Linked DNA regions of Homo sapiens: region 2 is linked to region 1. Evidence: fine-mapped expression QTL. A gene starts in region 1. The other region holds a variant in brackets. All regions are shown on one strand. Distances are from middle to middle.

What was found. PIP is the estimated chance that this variant, and not a neighbour inherited with it, causes the effect. A credible set is the group of variants that fine-mapping cannot tell apart.
Region 2: its variant is the best candidate, but not a certain one, in a credible set for the expression of PLLP in whole blood (TOPMed, PIP 0.86).

The regions. Positions count from the first base shown.
Region 1 is chr16:57,283,060-57,285,963 of GRCh38, forward strand. It overlaps PLLP (plasmolipin), which reads right to left and starts at 1,613. Exons shown (of 4, transcript NM_015993.3): 1 at 1,347-1,613. The coding sequence starts at 1,481. RefSeq lists an enhancer at 691-1,352 and a silencer at 1,397-1,806.
Region 2 is chr16:57,258,399-57,261,302 of GRCh38, forward strand. It overlaps PLLP (plasmolipin), which reads right to left. Exons shown (of 4, transcript NM_015993.3): 3 at 64-186. Among named protein-coding and RNA genes, the nearest start is that of ARL2BP, 15 kb to the left of the region's middle. RefSeq lists a silencer at 1-52 and enhancers at 665-1,220, 2,264-2,403, 2,414-2,473, 2,885-2,904. The variant G/A (reference allele first, on the strand shown) is at 1,299.

The sequences.
Region 1 (2,904 bases):
ACCTCTTCCCTCAGAAGACAGAATCTTCTCCCCTTCTCCCCCACCCCCCAAAAGAGAAACAAACAAAAAACTCTGGGAGAACTGTTAAAAATGAATTTCTGGCTGTACTTCCTGAGATTCAAATTCCGATTGCACATTTTTTTCCGGGGGTGGAGTCCAATAATCTAAATTTTAAACAAACCCGCCAGGAGATTCAGAGGTTGGGGAGGGGGCCCACAGAGATCTGAGAAATCCTGAAATGAGATAGCACTGACCCAGGTAGAGGTGGGCCCGCACCTGGAGAGGTCAGGGAAGGGAGACTGGACCTCAGCCCAGGGTCTGGCACCAAAGCAACCACCCTGCCCTCTAGCTTGGGCCTCGCAGCAGCGCTAGCACCCAGCAATAGGAGACAATGGGAAATGTCCACTCGCTGGATTGCTAAGAAATACAGGTCCTGGCCCAACTCCAATTCCACCTGAGTCCTCTGAAAATGTATCAGGCCCTCACCCACCCAGGGCACCCACCCAGCTTCCAGACCCTCACGAAAGGGTGGCAGAGGAAGAAGCTAACATCCGGGCCTGTGGCTGGTGTGGGAGTGGAGGATGTTCCCATGGGTCCGCCTCAGTTGGGGTCTGTACAGGGGTCTGGGAGAGAGTAGGAGTCTTGCCCCTGGCTACCCACAAACCCCTCCCTCCAGCGATATCTCGGTCCCGTGGGGCTGGCTAAACCGGCTGAAACCTGGCGGGTCACCCAGAGAAAGCTAGAAGAGCCCGGCTCCCGCGCGGGCGCCCACAGGGTAGTGCCTGAGTGTGCGTGTTGGGGAGTCGGATGTGCCCTCTAGATTAGATGAGGAATGTTCATGGGTGCGGCCACCCGGAGCCGCTGGGAGCGGGACAGAAGGTGGTCAGAGAGTGGACTTTGCCTCAGACTGGGTTCCCTAGAGGGCTGGGGGCACTGTCCGGGCAGAAAGAGGGGTGAAAAAGAGAGAGGAGGGAAGGGAGGGCTGGGAAGGGTTGGCGGGTTGTGCGCAGTGACTGTGGCTCCGGTGGGGGCTTCTGTGGCCGCTGGTAACCACCTTGGAGGGGGCACGATGGGGCACGGGCAGTGGGCACTCTGTACACGGTGCAGGGTGCTCACGCTCGCAGCGACGGCCACGGGGTAGTGTCGTGGTGAGAGGGATGCAGGGCGATCTTGGGGGCGTCCGTGCGGGAAGCGCCCTAGGGGTACGCGCAGCGCGTCGGTGACAGTGTGAGCCCGGGTGGGGAGCGCAAGGTTCGCGAAAAATGAACGCAGCGCCGGAGTCCCTCACCCATCCTGGCCGGACCGGGAGCCCCCGGCCAACCCCGTGGGCCCGCGCGTGCTCTCACCAGCTGCAGCAGCATGAGCGCCCCGAGGCGGGAGCGCACGAAGCCCAGGTCCGGGCGCAGCGCCGACACCGAGGCTTCGGCGCCCTGCGCAGGACTGCTGGTCCGCGTGCTAACTTTCGACGGGAACTCGGCCATGGCGGCTCCGCTTGCCTCCCGAGGTCGCTACGGCCGCCGTCGCCGCCCCTCCAGCGGTGGGTGCCGGCTCCCGCGCCGCTTTTCCCCCAGGCTCCGGATCCCTGTGTGGCTCCAGGCGCTGCAGGAGGCGTCGGGGCTGGGAGCCTGGGGCGCCAGGTGCGGCCGAGATCCCGGCTCCGCCCCCGCCGCCGGGGCCGCCCCCTTAACCCTTTGCTCGCCGCCGCCGCCCCAGCCGCGACCGGTTCGTGGGCAGCCGCGTCCACTCCCCGGACCAGTAAACAACCCCGGGTCCGTGAATCGGCTCCGCCAGCACCAGCCTAGACCGCTTCGCCGGCCTCCCCCGGGGCAAGCCGCCCGCTGGGAATTTCCCGGCTCTCGCCCAGGCCGTGGTAGCTTCCGCGCCTAGGGATAAACTTGTGGTAGCTCGCGGGGGACACCGCTCTCCCAGGCGCTTTCTACGCGCTGTGCACCCTCGGCCTAGGCCCCGGCGCAGCGACTCTTGAAGAGTCCCGGGAGAAGGCTGGATGCGGTGGCTCCTGCCTCTGATCGCAGCACTTTGGGAGGCTAAGGTGAAAGGATAATTTCAGGCCAAGAGTTCGAGACCAGCCTGGGTAACACAGTGAGACGCCCCCCCTCCCCCCGTCTGTATTTTATAGAAAAGAAAGTAAAGAAGAATCCTGGGAGACCCAGCGCGGGGAAGGGGAGGGTCTGGGTAAGCGGTGGGTAAGCGGTAGAAGGGGGAGGTCCTTTTCTGCCTATTAATGCTGTTTTCACTTCTGAACATATTTTATATAACTTAGATGATCGCGGAGCCTCAGTTTCCTCGTCTGTCATATAGATACGAAGGAAACCTGCCTCACAGAGCGTTGTAGGGAATAAATGAAATATTCCCCAGAAAGCTCCTGACAGCGTGAGGGAGGAGGGGTCACTCAGAAGATGGGAGGTCATATACAGTTTCATTGCCACACATGCACCCTAAAATACTTACACACACACACACACCTCTTGAGCCTAGAGGTTTGCACAGATAGGTCATCATGCATTCATCAACCAATGTTTGCTGAACACCTACTACATGCCAGGCCCTGTGGATACAGCAGGAAACGAAGTAGACAAGGCCTTCTTGGCTCCCACATTTTTTTTTTCCCAAATACCCACTTAAAAAGAGAGCCACTTAAAAAATTGTTTTTAACTGACATGTAATATTAGGTTGGTGCAAAAGTTATACGGTTTTTGCATATAAAAGTATAGCAAAAACCGCAATTACTTTTTCGGCAACCTATAATTGTACCTAAATATGGGGTACCATGTGATGTTTTGGTACCTGTGTACGTTGTGTAAAAAAATCAAATCAAGGTACTTAGCATATCCATCACCTCATACATTTATGGCTTCTTTGGGGTGAGAACATTCAAAATCCCCA
Region 2 (2,904 bases), 25 kb before region 1:
GCAGCCTGAGTCCTGGGGCTGAGACCCTGCAGACCACCAAGGGAGCCTGGGAAGCAGACTCACCGAGGCAGCCGCGCGCTGGTTATAAGGCCGGGTGCCCCTCAGGGATGTCAGGTCAACTGCCGCAGAGCAGGCGATGAAGGCGGTGATGTAGAGAACGGTGGCGCTGATGTTAAAGATCATTAACTGCAGGACATGGGGGTAGGGAGTGGGGAGAGAAAAGGCTTAAGACACAAAGAGAGGCCAGACACGGTGGTTCACACCTGTAATCCCAGCACTTTGCGGGGCTGAAGTGGAAGGATCGCTTGAGCCCAGGAGTTAGAGACCAGCCTGGGGAACATAGGTAGGCCCCATCTCTACAAAAATAAAAAAGTTAGCCAGGCATGGTGGCGCATGCCTGTGATCTCAGCTACTTGGGAGGCTGAGATGGGAAGATCACCTGGAGCCGGGAGGTTGAGGCTGCAGTGAGTCATGATCACACCACTGCACTCCAGCCTGGGTGACACAGTGAGATCCTGTCTCAAAAAAAAAAAAAAAAAAAAAAAAAAAGACAAGACCAACGGTTGGGGCTTCTTGGTTCCCACTGGCACACTCCTTGAATAGCCATTGGATGGTGATGCAAACACCTGGGTCTTTCCCACCAACAGGGCCTCAAGAGGCCACAGTTTCCAGGGAGTCAGCCCATGAGGCCCTGGTCCCCAGGAGGCCTGCTGAGCAGGGAGCATGAACACACCTGAGGCTGGAGGAGGGGAATGACAGGAGGGCCTCAGTGATGGGGTAGTGGCAGTGCCAGACCCATTCCTCACAGAAAGAGCCCAATCCATGACCCATCTCTTTGTACCAGCTAAAGAAACACAGGCTACTCCTCCAAGTGTGGTCCAGGGCCAAGCCCAGGCCATCCCTGGTACCACTGCAAGGTTTGGCTCTGTGGCCAGTCCTGGGCTGGGCCTCACATCCCTCTCTGCCTTCAGGGGGAAGAATTTTTGTCTCCCTCTTGGCCACATCCTAAGCTCAAGGCTCTAAGCAAATGCCAGGGTCAGGACCAAGAGGACCAGATATTTCAAGCTGGATATGGAACCAGACTGGCAGGAAGGGGCCCTCTGCTGACAACCAGGGACCAGTCCCTCATCCCAAACGCTTGGCCCCAGGAGCCCATTCACCGTCTTCAAACGCCTGGTCCTCAAACATTCATTCAGTTCGTCCAATATACTTTTAAAAAATTACCAACATTATAAAATTAGATTTCATGAAAACCTGAAGACTTCATGTAAAAATTTTATATTAAAAAAATCTTGGCC[G/A]GGTGCAGTGTGGCTCATGCCTGTAATCCCAGCACTTTGGGATGCCGAGGCAGGCAGATCACTTGAGGTCAGAAGTTAGAGACCAGCCTGGCCAACATGGTGAAACCTCGTCTCCAATAAAAATACAAAAATTAGCCAAGAGTGATGGTGCCCACCGGTAATCCCAGCTACACAGGAGGCTGAGGCGGAAGAATCACTTGAACCTGGGAGGCAGGGGTTGCAATGAGCTAAGATCGTGCCACTGCACTCCAGCCTGGGCAACAGAGCGGGACTTTGTCTAAAAAAAAAAAAAAAAAAACTTAGGATATCAAAAGATTTCGCTCCAAAGGGGCTGCATTCCCACTAGGAACAGATGAAGTGAGTATAGAGGCAGCTTGCGATGGGCAGATGGATGCTGGCTTCTCCAGGGTCCCTCCTGACCCAATTTACTCACATATCTTGCCTGGATCCTGTAGGGGTCTGTAGCCCCCATGCCAGAAAATCCCAAATTGGCCATGCTAATCCAGCCTTCTCTAGATGCAGTTAAGCCCTCTCTGCCCCATTCGTTGAGGGTCCAGAAGCACAAGAAGCAATGTCCTGCCACTGTGGCAGAAGGGAGCCTCCTTCCATTAACAGCCACGGCTGGAGCCCCAAATCTGCACCTAAGAGACACACAGGCTTTTATCTCTGGAGATTTCTCTCTTAGAGGTCCCTGGGACGTGAGGGAGGGGGTGGACCCTGAGCCCGGAAGTCAAGGCACCGCCTCCTCGCCCCAAAATCTTCCCTGCAAGCCCAGCGACCCCTGCAAACGCTGCCTGTTTCTGCCAGGGATGTCGAGATCTAACAAACCCATTCTGTCTTGAGGATGACTCACGTTTCCTCGGTTTAAAAAGTCATTGAATTCCAAACAATGCCGCCTAGTCCCAGCCTTGCTTGTCTTACAATCATGTGCCTTTCTCGCCTCTCTTCTCACTGAAAGCCTCAGACCCCAGCTGCAGGGGTTTTCCGGGTCAGAGGAAAAAAAAAACCAGCAGCTTTCTGTGTGTCTGGCCGGGGTACTTCCCATGTCCGCTCTCAGCCCTGTGTCCTGGGGAGACTGTCCTGGGGCAAACCTGGGGAGCCCAGCCTCTCCCAGGCCTCAGGGCCTCACCTGCAGGCAGCCAGGTGCCCGAGCTTGTCCTGCACACTTGAGGCCCTGGCCTGGGCAACTTCTGACAGCTTGCCACAGCCTCCAGCCACAGGGCTGCCTACCTGGGCCAAGCTACAATCTCACAAACTCACACAACACAGGCACAAATTCTGACCACCCCCAGAGGGAAATTTTTTTTTTGAGGTGGAGTCTTGCTCTGTCACCCAGGCTGGAGTATAATGGTGTGATCTCGGCTCACTGCAATCTCCGCCTCCTGGGTTCAAGCAATTCTCCTGTCTCAGCCTCCCAAGTAGCTGGGACTAGAGGCGCGCGCCACCACACCTGGCTAATTGTTGTATTTTGCTAATTGTTGTATTTTTTGTAGAGACAGGGTTTCACCATATTGGTCAGGCTGGTCTCAAACTCCTGACCTCAGGTGATCCACTCACCTCAGCCTCCCAAAGTGCTGGGATTACAGGCGTGAGCCACCACACCCGG